Linked DNA regions of Homo sapiens: regions 2, 3 and 4 are each linked to region 1. The links come from fine-mapping of genetic effects on gene expression. A gene starts in region 1. Each other region holds a variant in brackets. All regions are shown on one strand. Distances are from middle to middle. Region 1 holds the start of AP3B1 (adaptor related protein complex 3 subunit beta 1). Region 2 overlaps AP3B1 (adaptor related protein complex 3 subunit beta 1). Region 3 overlaps AP3B1 (adaptor related protein complex 3 subunit beta 1). Region 4 overlaps AP3B1 (adaptor related protein complex 3 subunit beta 1).

Region 1 (5,877 bases):
AGAAGATTAAAGAGACATGGCAACTAAATTAAATATATTATCTTGGACTGGAAACTGTACTTGAGGAAAAAAATGCTTGGGAAAAAAAACACTTTATTGGAACAAAGGATAAAATTAGATTAATTTCCTGAATACATCAACACTGTAGTTGCGTAAGAGAATATCTTTGTTCTTAAAAATTACACATTAAGATTTTCATTGTAAAAGAACATGATGTGTACAACTGAGTCTCCAATGGTTCAGAAGACATAATAACATGAATACGTATATGTGCCTGAATATGCATGGGGAGAGTGAGTGGCAGAGAGAGTAAGCAAGCAATGTAGCATTTTTTTTTTAATTGGTAAATCTGCAAAAGGGTAGCTCTCTGTGTCATTGTTGCAACTTTTTTGTAAACTTGAAACTATTTCATCAGAGTAAACCATTAAAAACCAGAGGTGAGGAATAGGGTAAGCTTTAAGTTTTTTATATAAACTTTGTCATTCGATTTTTTAAAAGGCAAGTAATATTACGGTTTTATAAATGAGAAAATGTGGACTCAAGAGAGATTTAATGACCACTTCCAGAACAGGGGTCTCCTTGTTTCTGTACAATTCCATTAGACTGCAGGTCAATAGCCAAATGTTTCTAATCCCTGGAAGCTTCTCTGGTGGTACTACTTGGAGCTACTATTTAAAGTTTTAAACTTTTTGTGAGTTGTATGCACTCACTAATAAAAATACCATACATTTCATCAAGTAGTAAGTAGCACATCTAAACTTTTGAGAGAATGGGCTCTAATATTAGAGCCCCTGAGTTCAAATTCAGGCAGTGCAATGTTCTACCTTTGTGGCCTTTTCCAAGTTAACAACCTTGCTCCAATTTCCTCACGTGTAAAGTGGGAGCAGAGAAGTACCTGGTAATAACCTGCAGGGTTGTTTAGGAAAACTGAATGAGATAATAAATGTAAAGTGGTGTGCACAAATACTCAATAAATATCTTTCGGGGAACACAATTCAACCATGGTTATTTGCATATATTACATATCACCTCTAATCAATTAGCTACTTTTATTTTAAATCCAACCTGTTAGGTCACCTCAAGAGCACTGGTCACAGAGTCAAAGCCGTAAGTTTTTTTTGTTTTTTTTTTCCAAATCAGGTCCAAATTTGACAAAAATCTTTTTCTTTTTTTTCTTTTTTTGAGACGGAGTCTCACTCTGTCGCCCACGTTTGAGTGCTGTGGCGCGATCTCGGCTCACTGCAGCTTCCGCCTCCCGGGTTCAAGCGATTCTCCTGCCTCAGCCTCCCGAGTAGCTGGGATTACAGGCACGAGCCACCACGCCCGGCTAATTTTTGTATTTTTAGTAGAGACGGGGTTTCACCATGTTGGCCAGGCTGGTCTCGAACTCCTGGCCTCAAGCGATCCGCCCACCTCACCCTCCCAAAGTGCTGGGATTACAGGCGTGAGCCGCAGTGCCTGGCCCCAAATCTGACAAAAATCTAAGAGAAAACATCGTAGATGTTCACAAACCATAAAAGTAAATTAATTTGCGAAACAGATTGATGCCGATATACAGGTTAATTCAGTCTAAACATTTTGCTAATAGTAGAGGCAACAAGCTCCGTACTTGTTCTAGAACAATGGATCATCAAATGCATATAATGAAAAATGAAATCAGTTACCTTACTTTTAAACTTTTCTAACCTTGGGAAAAAGGAAAAGATTGTATCTTACATGCTATATATATGATTTTGATCCTCAATACAGCCAAAATGTAATCCCAATTTGAAGTAGTAGCACTTTCTAGACTACCCAATATTGTTAGTAACGTTTAATTTAAATTTTAATTATACCCTCTAACAGATCTGCAAAGCTACTAGCACAGCTATTCTACCTTAATTTAGCATGAATTTAGTGACAGACTATTATGTGACCCTATTGCTTAGTAATGAAAGATTTAAAATAAGAGAAATGTAAAAATGATAATTCTGGTAAATGTAACCACTACCACCAACCCACCCCCCAAAACAAACAACTTGGGATTTCTTTCCATTTCTCGGTGATACTTTTTACAAAACTAAGTGTACCTTGTTTAACATTCGTTTTTAAAATTCACATTATTAATCTGTAAAAGTTTTGGATTTGTTCACAGTAACACTCTTTTAAAATATTTTCTATTCATATGCTTATTTTGGATTGGTGTTTTTGTCTGTAGTGCAAAGGACATAATCCAAGAACATTAATACTGGTGTAAACCAGTTTGTCCATTCAAACAGCCTAAATCCACCTCTCTGCTCCTACACTCCGGGGTCACAAAATAACTTCCCACAAGCAACACTCGCACTCTCACCTTCACCAAAACACTCCTTTCACCCTAATCAGGGAATGTATTAAAGTCTGATCCGGCGAACGGTAAATAAACTAGAAGACGATGCTCAAAATTCAGACTCCTGAGCCCAGCCCAAGTCCAATTCAATCAGTGTCTTCAGGGGTGGGATCTAAGCTCACCAAGTGGTTTCCTTTTCACTAAAGTTTGAAAACTACTAGAGACCCCTACACACATTCGCCCCAAACTCCCACAACTCCCACCACCGCCAACCAACCCCACCTACCCACCCGCGGGACACGTTACCGCCCTGCCCTGCTCAGACCTCAGGGCGACCCCGCTCCTCTCCAGGAAGCCCACCCTGGCGCCCACTCCTCCGAGTCCGCAGCTCCTCCCTCCCATCCCCGCAACCCAAACCTTTCTCCTCACTTCTTCAAATCGCTGCTAAAGAGGCCGAAGGCCCCCGAGGGGGAAATGGTTGAGGTCGCCTCCTGACCCAGCTCCGTCGCCTCCCCTCCTCCGGACTGCTCATTGTAAGGAAAACTATTGCTGGACATTGCCGCGGTGCTGGCGGGTGCGGGGTTGGTCCTGCCGGGGGTTCTCTCCAAAAGGTTCCAGTCCAGAGGGCACGGAACAAAACTAGTTCTCGTACGGAGGAGCGCGCGCAGGCGCTTCCGGACTCGTCACGGCTCCCTGAGCCGACCTGGCAGTCCACCCCCTGCGCATGCGCAGTGTGCAGGCCTGCTAGATTACCACCCGGGCCATCCAGGCCTGCGCGGACTTTCCTGCTCCGGGCTTTAGAGGTAGCTGAGCGGCTGCGAGCCGGACTGCGGAAGGGGAGGCAGCGGGTGGCTAACTGCCCGGCTCCCGGCCCGTTTGAGGTGTGTCTTTGGAGAAGGATACCCATTGCATCCGTTTTGATCCGTTAAGGAGTTTCCAGAGCCCGGACAGCTCTTTGCTATACTTCAGTAAAGCAATAGTTTTCAGATTTCTCCGGAAATGCCATTTAGCACGCCAGATCACCTTTCCTAAACCCATCACGATCGCTTTTCCTTTTCTTGCTTGTTTCGGCTACTCTCTTCCATCCGGCTTTGCCTTACTTTCATATCGGTCCCAAACAACTTTTCTCCTAGACTTTAAGGAGGCCTCTCCCAACGATGGTTTGGAGGATCCGCACAGAAGCGACCATTCCATCTTTTCAATGAAAGTCTTGGGGGCAGACCGGGCGCGGTGGCTCACGCCAGTAATTCCAGCACTTTGGGAGGCCGAGGCGGGTGGATCACTTGAGGCCAGGAGTTCGAGACCAGCCTAGGCAACATAGCGAGACCCTTTCTCTGCAAAAAATATAAAAATTAGCCGGCGTGGTGGCGCGTGTCTGTGGTCCCAGCTACTGAGGCTGAGGTGGGAGGATCACTCGAACCCAGAAGGAGGGGGTAGCGATGAGTTGAGATCTCTCCACTGCATTCCAGCCTGGGCGACAGAGCGAGACCCTGTCTCAAAAAAATGAAAAAGAAAAGAAAACATCTTGGGGCCACCAGTTCCCGTTTGGAGCTGAAGTGGTGCGTCCTATTGGCGTCTAGCTACCAAAAATAAAATGGACCACCTCGCGCGCCAGTCGTGTTACTCACTAATATGCACTAGGGAGCCTAGGCGGGATGCTTGCCTGGCCCCAGAGTAGCTCTCTCCGGGTGCTGGCACCCGAGAAAACCTCTTTCCCGGGGTGCCTTCCCCCAGCCCGCCTTCTCAGGTGGGTTTCAGCGCCTTCCCTCTCTTCTCCCCAGTGCCTCCCGTCCAAGGAAGGCATTAACACCCAAAGCCCTGGCGGCCAGGTACTGAAACTGTCAAGGGATTCTACCAGGTAGAACGCGAACCTGGAGGCCGGCCGCCCCAGGGAAGGCGGTGGGGCGTTTTCAAGGATGAGAGTATGATCTCCAAATTTCAAAAGGTCACACTGTCACTGTGGAAGCACGCAAGAGCGTGGCTCTGGGTGGGAGAGGAAGGGACGTCCTCCAAACTTGATCGTCTGGTCAAATATTGGCAGGTTTTTAATTCAGCTGTTAGAATACTCCTCCGGAGAGCCAATGATGAGCACCTAAAATGTGTTATTTGTCAGTATTAATTAATAGAATTTCACCTACAACTGACTATTGATGATGAGGATGAGGATGATCATAGATAACTATATATTATTATATAATCCTTAATATATACCAGGATATAAGTAGTTTTATATATATTAAAACTTCTAAGTAGTTTTATATATATAAATAGTTAAAGTAGTTAACTTTTAATATAAAAAAATTTATTTTAAGTTAAAATAAATACTTTTAAGTTAAAATAGTTAACTTTTAATATATATTAAAAGTTCTAAGTAGTTTTATATATATTAATAGTAAAAAGAGCTAGGCTTTGATTACTTTATTTGTAAAATGAGAACATTGATATACACATAGCCTGGAAAATCTCGGACACATACCTGATTACAGAATTTCTTGGTTTTAGAGCATGTACACTTTTACCAGATATCCTAAATTTTTTTCCAGCATACTTTTAGCAGTGGATAATCTTCTTTCTTCACATTCTCACAAACGTTTAGCTTTCTAAAAATGTTTAATTGTCATCAATATGATACAAATGAATATTATTTGTATTGTAATTAATTTTCATTCTCATGGCCATAATGAACTTGAGAATATTTTATGTGATTGTTACTCCATTTGCATTTTATTTCCTGGGAATTGCACATGAACCTATTTATCCACTTTTACACTGAGTAGTTTTTCTGATGGACTTGAAGAGTTCTTTATCATTGAGTCTGTTATTTTTAATTAACTGCTTGATTTTATTTTGTAATATTTTTATTTTTTCATACAGACTCAGGTAGGAGACTGACCTACAATATTGGGGTTTTGGGTTTTGGGGGTTTGTTTTTTGGGGTTTTGTTTGTTTTGTTTTTACATTGTCTTTGAATGGTGTGGATATTAAGAATATCTATTCTTCAAAAAAGAGGTATAGGTAACTTTCTTTTTCTCTGGAATATTACGTATAAGATACAAAGCATATATTCCTGGATGAAATAGGTAAAACTTTATTTTTATCACTAAAAAAAAAATAAAAAAATGAGAGCATTGACAAGAAGGGACTTGAGGCCCTTACTGCCTTAGAATTCTAACACTGTATATTCTTACAGAAAGATAAAAAGTAATAACTCCATGGGCTGTGATCCAGCTTTCCCATATCTCCAGAACTGAAAAATCTTTTATATAGCCATGAAGTTTTCTGACAGAGGAAAAAAAGTCACACTTCCAACTGGAAGAAACATTAATAAAACTAAAAGATTACTCTTTGACACCTGTTGCCAAACCAAACCAGATTTTTCTGTTTCCTGCCAGTATACGTAGTGTCTGGTATTACTGCCAAATAAGCTGTTTTTTTTTTTCCAAAAACTATTTTCCCCCTAACACTTAACAAAACCTTTATCAAATTTTCTGTTTCCATTTCTGTTCATCTAACCCTCATGATATAGGTGTTAAGTGTGTATATATATTCAAGCTTTTTTCTCTAAGCAT
Region 2 (5,877 bases), 170 kb before region 1:
GACCCATCAGTGTGTTGTATTCAGGAAACCCATCTCACGTGGAGAGTCACACATAAACTCAAAATAAAGGGATGGAGGAAGATCTACCAAGCAAATGGAAAACAAAAAAAGGCAGGGGTTGCAATCCTAGTCTCAGATAAAACAGACTTTAAACCAACAAAGATCAAAAGAGACAAAGAAGGCCATTACATAATGGTAAAGGGATCAATTCAACAAGAAGAGCTAACTATCCTAAATATATATGCACCCAATACAGGAGCACCCAGATTCATAAAGCAAGTCCTGAGTGACCTACAAAGAGACTTAGACTCCCACACATTAATAATGGGAGACTTTAACACCCTACTGTCAACATTAAACAGATCAACGAGACAGAAATTTAACAAGGATACCCAGTAATTGAACTCAGCTCTGCACCAAGCAGACCTAATAGACATCTACAGAACTCTCCACCCCAAATCAACAGAATATACATTCTTCTCAGCACCACACCACACCTATTCCAAAATTGACCACATAGTTGGAAGTAAAGCACTCCTCAGCAAATGTAATAGAACAGAAATTATAACGAACTGTCTCTCAGACCACAGTGCAATCAAACTAGAACTCAGGATTAAGAAACTCACTCAAAACCGCTCAACTGCATGGAAACTGAACAACCTGCTCCTGAATGACTACTGGGTACATAACAAAATGAGGGCAGAAATAAAGATGTTCTTTGAAACCAACGAGAACAAAGACACCACATACCAGAATCTCTGGGACACATTCAAAGCAGTGTGTAGAGGGAAATTTATAGCACTGAATGCCCACAAGAGAAAGCAGGAAAGATCCAAAATTGACACCCTAACATCACAATTAAAAGAACTAGAAAAGCAAGAGCAAACACATTCAAAAGCTAGCAGAAGGCAAGAAATAACTAAAATCAGAGCAGAACTGAAGGAAATAGAGACAGAAAAAACCCTTCAAAAAAATCAATGAATCCAGGAGCTGCTTTTTTGAAAAGATCAACAAAATTGATAGACTGCTAGCAAGACTAATAAAGAAGAAAAGAGAGAAGAATCAAATAGATGCAATAAAAAATGATAAAAGGGATATCACCACTGATCCCACAGAAATACAAACTACCATCAGAGAACACTACAAACATCTCTACGCAAATAAACTAGAAAATCTAGAAGAAATGGATAAATTCCTTGATACATACACCCTCCCAAGACTAAACCAGGAAGAAGTTGAATCTCTGAATAGACCGATAACAGGCTCTGAAATTGTGACAATAATCAGTAGCTTACCAACCAAAAAAAGTCCAGGACCAGATGGATTCACAGCCGAATTCTACCAGAGGTACAAGGAGGAGCTGGTACCATTCCTTCTGAAACTATTCCAATCAATAGAAAAAGAGGGAAGCCTCCCTAACTCATTTTAGGAGGCCAGCATCATCCTGATACCAAAGCCTGGCAGAGACACAAACCAAAAAAGAGAATTTTAGACCAATATCCTTGATGAACATTGATGCAAAAATACTCAATAAAATACTGGCAAACCGAATCCAGCAGCACATCAAAAAGCTTATCCACCATGATCAAGTGGGCTTCATCCCTGGGATGCAAGGCTGGTTCAACATACACAAATCAATAAATGTAATCCAGCATATAAACAGAACCAAAGACAAAAACCACATGATTATCTCAATAGATGCAGAAACGGCCTTTGACAAAATTCAACAACCCTTCATGCTAAAAACTCTCAATAAATTAGGTATTGATGGGATGTATCTCAAAATAATAAGAGCTATCTATGACAAACCCACAGCCAATATCATACAGCATGGGCAAAAACTGGAAGCATTCCCTTTGAAAACTGGCACAAGACAGGGATGCCCTCTCTCACCACTCCTATTCAACATAGGGTTGGAAGTTCTGGCCAGGGCAGTTAGGCAGGAGAAGGAAATAAAGGGCATTCAATTAGGAAAAGATGAAGTCAAATTGTCCCTGTTTGCACATGACATGATTGTTTATCTAGAAAACCCATCGTCTCAGCCCAAAATCTCCTTAAGCTGATAAGCAACTTCAGCAAAGTCTCAGGATACAAAATCAATGTGCAAAAATCACAAGCATTCTTATACACCAATAACGGACAAACAGAGAGCCAAATCATGAGTGAACTCCCATTCACAATTGCTTCAAAGAGAATAAAATACCTAGGAATCCAACTTACAAGGGATGGGAAGGACCTCTTCAAGGAGAACTACAAACCACTGCTCAATGAAATAAAAGAGGATACAAACAAATGGAGGAACATTCCATGCTCATGGGTAGGAAGAATCAATACCGTGAAAATGGCCATACTGCCCAAGGTAATTTATAGATTCAATGCCATCCCCATCAAGCTACCAATGACTTTCTTCACAGAATTGGAAAAAACTACTTTAAAGTTCATATGGAACCAAGAAAGAGTCCGCATCGCCAAGTCAATCCTAAGCCAAAAGAACAAAGCTGGAGGCATCATGCCATCTGACTTCAAACTATACTACAAGTCTACAGTAACCAAAACAGCATGGTACTGGTACCAAAACAGAGATATAGATCAATGGAACAGAACAGAGCCCTCAGAAATAATGCCGCATATCTACAACCATCTGATCTTTGACAAACCTGAGAAAAACAAGCAACGGGGAAAGGATTCCCTATTTAATAAATGGTGCTGGGAAAACTGGCTAGCCAGATGTAGAAAGCTGAAACTGGATCCCTTCCTTACACCTTATACAAAAATTAATTCAAGATGGATTAAAGACTTAAATGTTAGATCTAAAACCATAAAAACCCTAGAAGAAAACCTAGGCAATACCATTCAGGACAGAGGCATGGGCAAGGACTTCATGTCTAAAACACCAAAAGCAATGGTAACAAAAGCCAAAATTGACAAATGGGACGTAATTAAACTAAAGAGCTTCTGCACAGCAAAAGAAACTACCATCAGAGTGAACAGGCAATCTACAGAATGGGAGAAAATTTTTGCAACCTACTCATCTGACAAAGGGCTAATATCCAGAATCTACAATGAACTCAAACAAATTTACAAGAAAAAAACAAACAACCCCATCAAAAAGTGGGC[G/A]AAGGATGTGAACAGACACTTCTCAAAAGAAGACATTTATGCAGCCAAAAAACACATGAAAAAATGCTCGTCATCACTGACCATCAGAGAAATGCAAATCAAAACCACAATGAGATACCATCTCACACCAGTTAGAATGGCAATCATTAAAAAGTCAGGAAACAACAGGTGCTGGAGAGGATGTGGAGAAATAGGAACACTTTTACACTGTTGGTGGGACTGTAAACTAGTTCAACCATTGTGGAAGTCAGTGTGGCGATTCCTCAGGGATCTAGAACTAGAAATACCATTTGACCCAGCCATCCCATTACTGGGTATATACCCAAAGGATTATAAATCATGCTGCTATAAAGACACAGGCACATGTATGTTTATTGCGGCACTATTCACAATAGCAAAGACTTGGAACCAACACAAATGTCCAACAACGACAGACTGGATTAAGAAAATGTGGTACATATACACCATAGAATACTATGCAGCCATAAAAAATGATGAGTTCATGTCCTTTGTAGGGACATGGATGAAACTGGAAACCATCATTCTCAGCAAACTATCACAAGGACAAAAAACCAAACACCACATGTTCTCACTCATAGGTGGGAAATGAACAATGAGAACACATGGACACAGGAAGGGGAACATCACACTCCAGGGACTGTTGTGGGGTGGGGCGAGTGGGGAGGGATAGCATTTGGAGATATACCTAATGCTAAATGACGAGTTAATGGGTGCAGCACACCAACATGGCACATGTATACATATGTAACAAACCTGCACATTGTGCACATGTACCCTAAAAGTATAATAATAAAATAAAAATTAAACACACACACACACACAAAATCTCCATATGATTATAATGCGCAGCTACATTTAAAAACCACTAGTCTAAGGCTGGGTGATGTAGCTCATACCTGTACTCTCAGCACTTTGGGAGCTGAGGCAGGAGGATGGCTTGAGCCCAGGAGTTTGAGGCTGCAGTGAGCTATGATCGCACCACTGCACTCCAGCCTGGGTGACAGAGCAAAATCATGTCTCAAAAAAATAAATAAAAGCAAATAAAAATAAAACCACTGATCTAGAGGGTTTAAGGTATGTTGCTTAAAAAGAGAAGCTTGAATATATTTGAATAAGATGCTTATATAAGATCAGCAGTATGGCTTTCTTTTATATTTATTTAAAATGCTTCTGTCTACAAAGATAGTATTCTATAAACAAAGCTCTCTTATATTTGGTAAACTCTGAAGTCCATATTTTTCTTAAATCCAAACATATTTCTCTGAGGTCTGATAAAACGTTTGTTGGATTAATTTAATAACACTAAATCAACAATTTCGGAAAACCAGACTTCTATGCTCAAACGTGCATTTTTTCTTGACATGGCCATGAATTCTATGGAGTTTCAGGTTTTAAAAGGCCAAAGACGAACAATAAAAGTATCTTAATTTGTATTGTGGTCCTTTATGACTAAAAGACCACATTATCATTGTAAGGAAAAGGAATAATAGGGAAAAGAAAAGAAAAGAAAAGAAGAGAACATAGACGCTAATTTGAAAGTTTCTGTAAAGGATAAAATATTGACAGATGTGTTTATGAAGCAAAATACCCTTCATATGCAGAAGGCGGTCTTTCTGTCAGTAGAGAAGAAAGGACTTTCTAGAACTAAGCAAATAAATTATTAACTAAGGATCTTCAAAACTTACTGGGATCATAATATAAATATATATTATATCCTATATCCTAGAAATGGTGGTGTGTAATTCAAAGTGACTTCTACTGTCAATCTGACTAGGTTCCCAGTCATTTTGATTAAAATATCAGATTATCTAAACCTAGGTCATTTTTCTTACTAAGTTATATTTCACAGTTACAGGACTTGACCATGTAAGATCACTTTACAGGAAAACTAGAATAACATAGTATATTATATGCATGAAATACAGTGACATGACTTGGAAGGGAGATGAAGTAGAGTGAGAGACAAGAAAGATAATACGGACATTATTTTTTGTATTGTAGCTGCATTTAAAAAGAAAACTATCTACGTTATTTTTATATTTAATTGTGTCCCTCATAGTATAATTTTAAGCCAATTGTCTCAGAGTCCAATAGACTGAAGCTGTTTTCTGCATGGCATCAACAGACAGTGACAGTTTTATCAAACCATGTTCAATCAGTTATAATGATTCTCTCTAAGTTACCAATTATTAATTTCATAAATATAATCAGCAAAATGAAAAAGAAATTAATTTGTCTCTGTTGAATTGGACAGGTGAAACGAACATAATATGTTATATTTAAGTACTGTCCCTATAAGGTAGTTAATGCTTAGAAGAGCACATGAAAATGGAAGAAGCCAGCCAACAAACCAATCTATCAGCCAATAAAGAATACTGCTGAGACCAAATTAAATTGCATAGCATTGCTATCAACTCTGAGAAGATAATGCTTTTTGGTGGGTGGGGGCAGCAAGGAGGGAGAGATAAGGCGGAAGCAGGGGAAGGTTAAAAGGATGGTTCTACTTGGGCTAAAACATCATGTACCCCATAATGAAAAAAAAAAACGAACCATAAAAACAACAAACAAGCATAATAAGAAATTAGGAGAGAAAGTATGTCCGTAGGAGGAACCATAACAAAGAACACTCTCTTTATATTCTAGTATCTGATCAAAAGTTGCACAAATAGGCTGGGCACGGTGACTCACACCTGTAATCCCAGCACTTTGGTAGGCTGAGGCGGGCAGATCACTTGAGGT
Region 3 (5,877 bases), 250 kb before region 1:
CTGAGAGTATATATCAACCTATTAAACATTTTCACTATGCCGTGTACACCTGATGACATTACAAACGTAGCAATTATAGTAATGATTTAAAGTTCCACAAAAATCCAAGAGTTAAATATCATATATACAAAATGCTACATCATGCCTTCTAAGCATCATCAAAACATAGTATTCTTTCTCTAAAAGTGCAACAAAAAATGTGGGCAATTTAAAATAATCATCACCTCTGGCCAGGCGCGGTGGCTCACGCCTGTAATTCCAACACTTTGGGAGGCCGAGGTGGGTGGATCACCTGAGGTCCGGAGTCTGAGACCAGCCTGATCAACATGGAGAAACCCTGTCTCTACTAAAAATACAAAATTAACCGGGTATGGTGGCGCATGCCTGTAATTCCAGCTACTCTGGAGGCTGAGGCAGGAGAATGGCTTGAACCTGGGAGGCGGAGGTTGCTGTGGGCTGAGATCGCGCCATTGCACTCCAGCCTGGGCAACAAGAGCAAAACTCCGTCTCAAAAAAAAAAAAAAATCATCACCTCTAATCTCAGCACTTCGAGAGGCCGAGGTAGGAGGATCACTTGAGCCCAGGAGTTTGAGAACCAGCCTGGGCAACATGGTGAGATCCTGTCTCTAGAGAAAATGTAAAAAATTAGCTGGGTGTGGTGCATTGCGCCTGTAGTCCCAGCTACTCAGGAGGCTGAGGTGGGAGGATTGCCTGAGCTCAGGAAGTTGAGGCTGCAGTGAGCCATGATTAGGTCACTGCACTCCCGCCTGGGTGACAGAGCAAGACCCTGTCTCAAAAAAAAAATAATAATAATAAAATAATAATCATAAAAATTTATGGGATAGTTTATTTGTAAAATATAATAAACAATTAGCTAAATTTAAAATTTTGGTTATATAAAATAATAGGGCTACTGGCCTATTCATTCTATTTAAGCCTTCTGATGATGATAACAATCTAGTATTTTAAGTTTTCAAAGCACTTTCACTTCTAAGGTTAGGTTCTTTTCCTTGAATAAAAACTATTTTCAAAACTCTTCTGTTTCCTTTCTTTCTTTTCTTTTTTTTTGAGACAGAGTCTCGCTCTGTCGCCAGGCTGGAGTGCAGTGGTGCGATCTCAGCTCACTCAGGCAGCTGCAGACTCTCCTTGGTAACTGAGACCAGGCTTTTCCCATCAAACTCCTTGAGCTGCTGCACGCAGTACTCATCAGTGGGCTTGGCTGTATATACTAATTCAAAGCCCCACTTCTGCACTTGCTCCACAAACACAGAGCTGGCCACCTGCTCTTTGCTCTCACCAGTGATGCTATAGATGGATTTCTGTGCCTCTTTCATGCAGGAGACATATTTTGACACAGATGTCATCTCATCTCCAGACTGGGAAGTGTGATACTGCAGCAGCTAGGACATGCGTCACTGGCTAGTGGAGTCTTTGTGGATTCCAAGCTTTAGATTTTAATTTTTGAAATTCTAAAATTTTATTTATTTTTTTTTTATAGATAGGGGTTTCACTCTGTCATCCAGGCTGGAGTGCAGTGGTGCAATCATAGCTCACTGCAGCCTGGAACTCGTGGGCTCAAGTGATCCTCTTGCCTCAGGTAGCTTGGACTACAGGTGTGTACCACCATGCTGGGTTAATTTTTTTTATTTTTTGTTGTGATGGTGTCTTGCTTTGCAGCCCAGGCTGGTATCAAACTCCTGGCTTCCAGCAATCCTCCTGCCTTGGCCTCCCAAAGTGCTGAGATTACAGAGGTGAGATACCACAACTGGCCCAAGCTTTAGATTTTTAGATAAGGCCTCATTGAATTTCTTGCAATTCTCCTTGTCTTCTGCCACCTCAGAGAACAGCTCAAGGCACTTCTTAACAATGTTTCTGTGAATGACTGTTAAGATTCTGCTCTGTTGGAGCATTTCTCGAGAGATGTTCAGGGGCAGATCCCAAGTCAACCACACCAAGGATTAAAGTTGAGATACTCTTATATCATCATGGCTGTCCATGATGAACACATGATGGACACAGAGTTTGTTGTTCTTTTTTTCTTCTCATTCTCAAAGAAGTCAAAGGGAGCCAAACAAGGGATGAACAGCAATGCTCTGAATTCCAACCAACCTTCTACAGAGAAGTGCTTGACTGCCAAATGGTCTTCCTAGTCACTGGTGAAGCTCTTGTAGAATTCTCTATACTCCTCCTGGGTGAATGTCATCAGAGTTTCTGATCCAAATGTTCTTGATCTTGTTTAGTTCTTCCCAATCAATGATTTCTCCTTGATCTTGTTGGTTTTCTTTTTCTTATCCTTACCATTGTCCTCCTCTTCATCTGAACCCACCCACATCTTCTTCAATCTTGGACTTTTTCTCATCATCTCTATCTGCCTTTTTTTGTTTGTTTTGAGATGGTGTAACACTCTGTCGTCCAGGCTGGAGTGCGGTGGTGTGATATGAGCTCACTGCAACCTCCACCTCCTGGTGGATCCTCCCACTTCAGCCCCACAAGTAGCTGGGACCTAAGGTGCGCACCACCATGACCGCCTAATTTTTTGTATCTTTTAAAGAGTTGGGGTTTCACCATGTTGGCTAGGCTGGTCTCAAACTCCTGAGTTCAATCGATCTGCCACCTCAGCCTCCCAAAGTCCTGGGATTACAGGCATGAGCCATTGTGCCTGGCCTATCTTCCTCTTCTTTCTCACCTTTCTCTTCCTCTGCCTATCATCACTGATTTTCTCCTCTCTTTCCTTCTCCAAAGAAAGGGTAATGGGATAGGCTATGAACTGTAAGTGCTCTTCACTACTTCTTTGACCTTCCTCTCTTCTAAGTACTCTGTCTGGTCTTCTTTAAGGTGGAGGGTCACTTTGGTACCCCTGCCAATGGGCTCTCCATGGTCAGCACATACAGTGAAGGAACCCCCAGCAGAGACTCCCAGGCATACTCTTCATCATTGTTGTGCTTTGTGATCACAACTACTTTCTCTGCCACAAGGTAGGCAGAAAAAAAGGCAGCACCAAACTGCCCAATCATGGAGATATCTACACTAGCCTGAAGAGCCTCCATAAATCCTTTAGTACCAGGGAATACACCCTGACTTTGGTAGACACAGGCATTGACATGACCAAGGCTGATCTCCTAATTTGGGAACCATTACCATGGGTTGGGGATGATGTTAACTTCCAGCTCTTTACCATTGTCCAACTTGGAAGGGTTTGTCAGGCTCTTACAGGAAATCTTGTCCAATGCATCAGAAACATTAGATCAACCCCTGAA[G/A]GAAAATCTCCTTGTTAGAATAGAAGGTATTGATGACGAGAGACATGAGTTGGGCAATATCTGCCTGAAAGGCAAGTTTCCAGCTCCTCCGCTCCACGTGCACTTTCTCAGGCATCTCGAAAGAAAAAGGCTACAAGTACTAGAGAGCAAGGTGGGCTGGGACTCTCCGACATGCACATGGCACCAAGGCTGTACTGGGATGACTCCAGAGCTATATATTTTATATTTATAGATTTATACTCAGCAAAAGTTTTCTTTTTTGCCATAAATTCCCATGCTACTAAGGCTATGATAATCAACCTTAAATATAAGCTCTTATCTGGCTAATTATATTTTTCAGTGTTACATGTTTATTTCCTTAATGATAAGCATATTAGAGACAGTGACAGGTCTTACTTTTATTCTACATTGTTCCACAAACATATTTGTTATCAAATCATTAAATAAATGTTGATGTAGCCAGCTTTATCTCTGTGGAAATTCATAAAAAGTTGGCCTACATATAATATCGGGGAAAGAAAGCTGAAACTGTAATGTAAAAGGGAAGACTATTTGAAAGTTGGAGAAAGGCAAGGGTAGAGGAGTGGGACTAGAGCAGAACAGAACAAAGGTCTGGTTCACAGCGGCCAGGAATCAGTACTGTAGATATCATACAAGGTGGTTAGAAGTATGCCTTTAGTCATTTAAGAGCCATCAAGCCTTGGCAGACTCACTGATTCCTTCTCTCAGTCTAATCCTAGGATGCATGGTCCAAACATTTATTTTGTGTTTTCAACTTTGTCTCAAAATTCTACAGCTTTATTATAATTATCAAAAAATATGTTAAGGGATGAATAAAGAAAGAAAAACAGTATAATTCTCTCCACTCATTCTTTCCACATTCAACCAAGTTCAAGGTAAAAAGCATTCTCTAATGAATTCACCGTCTAAAAAGGCCCTCCCTTACAACCTCCAAAGGTTATCTGTGATAATTCCCAGAGGTCTATGCACTCTTTCACAATAAACAGGATCATAAATGACACTTCGTGGTAATAATATATACTTGTTTAACTACAGAAAGGTAGTAAATGAAAACATAGCCAGGTGTGGTGGCTCATGCCTGTAATCCCAGCACTTTGGGAGGCCAAGATGGGTGGATCACTTGAGGTCAGGAGTCTGAGGCCAGCCTGGCCAACATGGTGAAACCCCATCTCTACTAAAAATGGAAAAATTAGCTGGGCGTGGTGGCATGCACCTGTAATTCCAGATACTTGGGAGGCTGAGGTGGGAGGACTACTTGAACCCAGGAAGTGGAGGTTGCAGTGACCTGAGATAGTGCCACTGTCCTCAAGTCTGGGTGATGAAGCAAGGCTCTGTCTCAAAAAAAAAAAAAAAAAAAACACAAAGAAAAAGAAAATGTTTGATTACTTTTTTAACCTTGTTTCCTAAGTTTATACAAGTCATATTACGCCAAACTTCTCCAGCATCTAGATAAAATACATAGGTGATATTTTGTTCAATAAACCGAGTGGGTTCCATAAATACTTCGACTACTTCCACATATAATACATTTAATCCAGTGTTATATTAATATTAACATATATTTAGACTTTAGTTCAATATTTTGTACATCAGACCAGATACCTATATTCCAGAAATACATATGAGATCTGTGGCTGCTTATATTCTAAGATGCTCAACATTGCAAATGGCGTTCTTGACTTCATATTTTATAGACAACAATGATTTTATTAGATGCAAAAAAAGATAAAACATAATTATAAAGTGATCTAGATTTGGGCTGTGAAAATGAGGGTTTAAGAAAAAGGGAAGATTTAATAAGTCTAAACACAATACATGTAGGGCAGAGGTTGCAAACTATAACCCACAAGCCAAATATGGCCTGCTGCCTATTTTTAAAAAGTATCACTGGAACACAACCATATTCTTTCATTTACATACTGTCCTTGACTGCTTTTTTACTCTACAATGGCAGAGGTGAGTAGTTGTAATACCTAAAACATTTACTATCTGGTACCTTTACAAAAAAAGTTTGCTGACCCCCGATCTAAGGGCACAAATGTTAGATCCTTGCCATTCCACTTCCCTTCCCTTGTTGTTGGAAACAATTCTCTACAGCAGAGGGTCCCCAGTCCCTGGGCTATGGACCTGTACCAGGCCATGGGTTGTCAGGAATCCGGCCGCACAGCAGGAGGTGAGTGGCTGATGAGAGCAAGCATTACCGCCTGAGCTCTGCCTCCCGTCAGATCAGCAGTGGCATTAGATCCTCATAGGAGTGCAAACCCTATTGTGAACTGCGCATGCGAGGGATCTAGGCAGCACGCCCCTTATGAGCATCTAACGCCTGCCTGATAATCTGAGGTGGAACAGTTTCATCCCAGAACCATCCCCCTATTCCCAACGGTCCATGGAAAAACTGTCTTCCACAAAACGGGTCCCTGGTGCCAAAAAGGGCTCTACAGGTCTCACGTCTTCTGAGCAGAAACATTAGCAACTTTGCTTCTGAAGCTCTTTTCAAAGATGTTTCCACAGCAAACAGCCTTTGGAAGACAGAGGTAATGCCTCCCTCTGGGGCAGGTGATAGATTTGTTTGTTCATTGTCCAGGATTAGAAAGACAAA
Region 4 (5,877 bases), 150 kb before region 1:
TGGCAGAAATAGTTACAGTGAAGACCATATGGTCCTCAAAGCCAAAAATATTGACTGTCTAGCAATTTATAGAAATGGTTTGCTGACCCCTGCTCTAGAACAGCAGTTCCCAAACCTCAATGCCCACAAAAATCATCCAGGGTTCTTACTAAAAAGACAGGTCCTGGGATCAGCTCCAAAATAGTATTTCTGTGGTGGGGCCCAGAAATCTATGTTTTAATTTAAAAAGCATCACAGATGACTCCTGAGACAGGTGGTCCACAAAGCCCATTTGAGAACCCACAGATAATACAGAAAAAGAAACAGATCAATTAGGTACTATGATTCCAAATCAAAACTGTTTTTGCTCTTTATGTATTAGCATCTACAACACTGGAAATATATCAAACTGATAAGATCATCAAGGTCTGCTTATAAAATCATGAATCCCAGTCTATTATTTGGTCAACAAAAGAAACAGGGATAAATTTGTCCAATATTGCATTTTGGCACTATATTTTTAAATAAACTGCATTTCAATATAATTTATGTTCTTAAAAGTCACTGCTTTGTGACAAATTGGAAACCTTCCATCAGTACCATTAAGACCAACAATTTAGAGTATGCAAATTAGTTTTATTACTATTTGCTTATTTGCATCCTCCCCTATTCCAAAAGGAATTTGAGAGGGTGTGTAAATTCATTTCAGTGAACATTTTCACCTCGCACAGAAAATTTGTTTTTTATAATAAGTGAAAAGGCTGACAGCTATCATTAAAAGGTGGCATCACGAGGAAAGATAATGTTCTTTTTATGAAGTCCTTTTACAATTTCTCAAAGTCCTAATATTTTCTGTAGTTTCATGGCTATACATAGTAGGATTGTTAAAGAAAAAAGTGAGAATAAGGACCTTTCCATAGCTAAAATTTTATCACAATATCTACCATTGCAAAATCTTTCAAAACACCCACATTATGAAATTATATAAAAATATTAAGTTACAATATTGAGTCCTTCACTAGAATCAGAATGAGATGATCAAAAAAGCTTTTAAATAAAAAGGTATATATTTTAAAACAGTGTAACAGCATGTCTTTAAATTATTATTTAGCATGTTTGGTGAGACACAAGAAATCCATATACTTGTGCAATTAGAAAAAGGTCTAAGTGCTATTAAAAATCTATTCATGCAGTGTGATAAAACTGATGCCCTTACTGCATACTGATTTCTGGAAAGAAAAGAGGTTATTTCTAACGTTCCAAAGGTTACACTGCATTAAGACCTTACTCCCAATCTATTATTTTAAATTGGGCTAAAGAATAGTAATTGAGTGGTACATTAAATTTTCCAGTATAGAGGAATTCAAGTTGCCTGCCATAATGAAAGGTAGTTCTAAATAAGAATATATGTGCAACTTCAAATTTCAGTTATGCTAGATTTATTTTTCTTAAATATTTTATTATATATTGCTAGTATAAAAATCAGAATTCTATGACATACCATAATCTATTATCCCATTTTAAGTAATTTTCTTCTGGTAACAATCTTTTGCAATTAAAAAGACGATCCCAAAAACAAGTAATGTTTAAAGAGATTGTTTATATTCATGAATATACTAAAATTAAAATTAAAATATTGGAATACTGTAAACACTCACGATACATATATTTAAAATACAACTCTTTGAAAAAATTAAAAATCAATAAATCACAATGCTCACAATAAAAATCTCAAGATGGTGGTGAGAATAAGATTTGTAGTTTTCTAGAACTGAGCTAATAAAATCCCCAAGAATTTTTAAAACTTAGAAAACTTCACCACAAGAAATAATATCAATATAAATATACCAAACTTTTGGTGATGGCATTGTATTACAAAGCTTAGGAAACTGACAAAGACAACATTTTTGAGCAGGTGGATGGGATCAGAATACTAAGATTTTTGGATTCCAGCTTTCCCTTTCTCTTCCCATTAAGCAACAGGACTCTCATTTATACACCATTGACACTATGAATTCACAGCCACTACTTTCAAAGATTTGAAGCACCTGAAAAAAAGGCAAGTAAGAAAATTAGTCACTTTTTAGAGGCCAGGCACAGTGGCTCATGCCTAAAATCCCAGCACTTTGGGAGGCTGAGGCGGGTGGATCACTTGAGGACAGGAGTTTGAGACCAGCCTGGCCAACATGGTGATACCCTGTCTCTACTAAATATACAAAATTAGCCTGGCACACTCCTGTAATTCCAGCTACTTGGGAGGCTAAGGTAAAAGAATCACTTGAACTCAGGAGGCAGAGGTTGCAGTGAGCTAAGATTGTGCCACTGCACTCCAGCCTGGGTGACAGAGCGAGACTCTGTCTCAAAAAAAAAAGAAAAGTAAATTAGTCACTTTTTGTTCCCCATGGTCTTTTTAACCACAAAATAAATAGGAACACTGAAATAAAACCAAACTAATAATACACACACAGACACAGACACAGGTACAGACACACACACAGAGTCATACATATGATATAATACTTTCATTATGAAGCTCTGCTTTTCAATATTCTCAAAGACAAATTGGATTGTAAATGACTTTGCCTGATTCTTTATTCTAAATGCCCTGAGAAAGTGATTAAATGCACTTTTCAAACCTTGTACTAGAAGGCAGTTTCCACGGCCACCACAACCCATTAATTTGCCAGCAAAAACAAATAATGATTCCTAGCTCACCACAGCAGCTATAGAAAGACATCTAGAAAGATTTTGCAGATCACTCTGTAAGCAGTTCAATTTAAAAGCTATTGTGTTTCAACACCAGCCCACTGCACAGTGCAACAGTCCAAAGTAAACCCTACAAAAACATCAATTTCATTTATTTAAATTTGTCAAAGGCAAAATCAGTAGACATCTAAGCAAACTGCATACCAACAGCAAATCAGATCTAATACTCTGTATCTGGACTCAATATGCATTAAAGCCTAAGCCTGAATTACAATGGGGTGCCAGAGAAAGGGTGGGTAACTTGTGAAATGGCAGGCATCCTGTGAGGCATCTGGGCAACAAGGATACAAAGTGCTATTTCAATATTACTCAGTTTTTACAGAATAACATCTTTCAGTTGTTAAGATATGAAATCCCATCTGTCCCATTAAACATTATGTGAAATCCTGTCAGAGCAATCCACAGGTAGTATGGGTTGTTTTGTTGTTGTTGTT[G/GTTGTTGTTGTTT]TTTTTTAAAGACAGGGTCTTACTCTGTCATCCAGGCTGGAGTGCGGTGGTGCAATCATTGCTCACTACAACCTCAAACTCCTGGGCTCAAGCAATCCTCCCGCCTCAGCCTCCCAAAGTTCTGGGATTACAGGCATGAGCCACCATGCCAGCTGATAGTATGCATTTTATTCTAGAAGAACTCCAAAACCAGTATTTATCATAAATGAAGGATACGCCAAAGGACAGAATACTCACAATCAGAACATGTAAGTTGACTGTATTACAGACATAAATCTATTTGATTTGACCGAATTCAAAATGTAAAATACATTTAAACTTTAGTTTTTATATTTTCAATTATTACTAAATAACCAATTAAAACAAAGCCCTCAATATGATAAAATCTATGTTCTCTTTTTAAAACAAATTACATAGCTAATATCTATTGAGCTCTTACCATGTGCCATGCACTGTTTTTGAGAGCTTTACGTATTTTCTCAGTCATTCATCGCCAAAGCCCTATGAAGTATGCTCTACTATGATCTGCACTAGACATATGAGGAAACTAGGTAACAAATGAGTTAAGAAACTTGCCCACATCTCACAGCTGGTTAGTGGTGGAACTAGGATCAGAACTCCAAATCTGAATCCAAAATTCATACTGGATCACTGGGTAGCGACAAAATGAGTGTGGTAAACTAGGAAGAATACTGGTCAGCAAGCTGTTGAGACCGGTTCTGATCCCACACTGATGGTGTTACATCAAGGAGGCAATTAACTTCACCTCACTGGGGTCATATTTACTTATTAATCAGATGAAGGATTATTCCTTCATCCTCTGTTTGTCTGCCACATTGTGCAATGGCTCCCTTAGTGCCTCCTGCCATTTCCCCAAGAGCCAGATTTTCAGGGCAGACCCAGGCCATCCTCTTGCCTGTTCCCACACCCGTGTATAGTGGGACATTTTCCCACTTCTTTCACCTCTTCTTTTAAGGATAGGTAAGGTGGCCAGGTGGGAAGAGGTCTTGCTATCACTTCTGTTCTCTCTCCTTCCAGAAGAAAGATGGACCCAGGATTCTGCCCTAATAAAGTGGCTCAGGCACTGAAGGAAAACATGCTCAATATTGACCCATTGTCCTTAGATATTGGACAGACTGGCTTTTCCTAAAATTGCAGTGTTTTAGAATGACACTCCTGGGTTTGATGGTGAAATAGGTAGAGATTCAGGAGGACAGAAGTCTCATTTAAGGCTCTTATTTTAAGGCTCACATTTTAAAATCACTTGCCTACGTTTAGGAGTTATCAGGTACTTGGTCGGATTAATAAAACACTGCTTTTATTTCCACATGGCCATTGTTCTTGTATAAACAGCTCTCCTGACTGGAACAGAGAGATTCTGGGGATTCAATCATTCTTCTTTCCTGACTTTGAAGTTATGTCTGCTACATCCCTCATCACCTTCTCCTGGGGTAACTTGTGGTTGACCATTTTGAGGGTTCTGCACAACAAATTGTTTTGATTCTTCCTTGCTTGTCCCACCTTCAAGCACTTCAGTTTCCTCAGATACGTTAGATGAGCAGTAACAACTAATTATCAGCTTTTCATTCTCCTTAAGTTCAAATGTGTGCTGTAGAATTCCATACAGCTTTCTTGTATTTTAATTTCTTTTATTATCATATTCCAGATTTGTCTACTTTTGTTACCTCTCTCTGCTTCATAATAATTAGAAGGGAATTTTGTTTTATTTTCTTTCCAAAAGACCAGATTTAACATGTACTTTTCAACTCATATATATTTTTTGTATTCTATTTTACAAAATCAGCATTGATCCCTCTTCTGTTTTGATTCGTTTTTCTTTTATTTTATATCCCTATACTTTAAAAATGGTGATCTTTATAACTTTAGCCATGTCCTACATGTTTTGAAATAAAGCATTTTATTTCCTGGGTTTTAGAAAAAAGTTTGCATTTCTTCTTTAAATGCATTCTTTAATCTGAAAGTACATTTCTTACTTTACAACTGGTCTGGTACCCTTTTAAATTATTTAAGTCTCATTTCATTGCTTAAGGTCAAAGAATGCAAAATCTTTAAGCTTCCTTTATGCCTAAATACATTCTTGATTTTTTGAAAATATTCACTGGATATACTCCTAAAAGTGGGTATTATCTGTTCAAGAGATATAAGGTTTTAGCTATATTTACTAAATAAGTTTTTGATTACTTAATTTTCTTACTTATATCTGTCTACTAGAAATATCTAATATGAGAGAAATACATTACAGTCACACATTGTAACTATTTTATCAATTTCTCCTCACATTTTGAATAGATTTTTCCTTTACATATTTATTTGGTTGCCATATTTTTTGTGCAAATAGGTTTGTGCTTATTACTTTCTTTACAAATTACCCTTTTTTCATTTTATAATGTTCCTTTTTATCTTGTTAAATGCTTTTAATTAACTGTAAATCTCACTTTCTTGTTCATATTTGCTTAATATCTCTTTCCTTACCTTCTTATTTTCAACTTTTATCACTTGATTAAGGTGCTTTAACTATAAATGGCCTGTAGCTAGTTTTTGTTTTTATTCCAATTTGTAAGTCTGTCTTTTGATGAGAAAATTCAGTCCATTCATATTCAAGATGAGAAATATTTGATTTTATTTCTTCCATCTTTATTACTTTTAAATACTTATTATTTATTTTACATTTGTTTTC

Evidence for each region.
Region 2: its variant is fine-mapped to the expression of AP3B1 in whole blood (TOPMed, PIP 0.96).
Region 3: its variant is fine-mapped to the expression of AP3B1 in whole blood (INTERVAL, PIP above 0.99). The same link has a PIP of 0.9 or more in T cells, blood mononuclear cells, lung, monocytes, monocytes after R848 and neutrophils.
Region 4: its variant is fine-mapped to the expression of AP3B1 in whole blood (INTERVAL, PIP above 0.99).

Annotation. Positions count from the first base shown.
Region 1 is chr5:78,291,715-78,297,591 of GRCh38, forward strand. It overlaps AP3B1 (adaptor related protein complex 3 subunit beta 1), which reads right to left and starts at 2,984. Exons shown (of 27, transcript NM_003664.5): 1 at 2,738-2,984. The coding sequence starts at 2,865. RefSeq lists enhancers at 3,247-3,820, 4,195-4,244.
Region 2 is chr5:78,120,417-78,126,293 of GRCh38, forward strand. All of the region lies in intron 17 of AP3B1 (adaptor related protein complex 3 subunit beta 1), which reads right to left. Among named protein-coding and RNA genes, the nearest start is that of AP3B1, 170 kb to the right of the region's middle. The variant G/A (reference allele first, on the strand shown) is at 3,118.
Region 3 is chr5:78,040,765-78,046,641 of GRCh38, forward strand. The region is part of intron 22 of AP3B1 (adaptor related protein complex 3 subunit beta 1); the gene reads right to left. It also overlaps the pseudogene LOC100422441. Among named protein-coding and RNA genes, the nearest start is that of AP3B1, 250 kb to the right of the region's middle. RefSeq lists an enhancer at 5,178-5,754. The variant G/A (reference allele first, on the strand shown) is at 3,258.
Region 4 is chr5:78,141,665-78,147,541 of GRCh38, forward strand. The region is part of intron 14 of AP3B1 (adaptor related protein complex 3 subunit beta 1); the gene reads right to left. Among named protein-coding and RNA genes, the nearest start is that of AP3B1, 150 kb to the right of the region's middle. The variant G/GTTGTTGTTGTTT (reference allele first, on the strand shown) is at 3,180.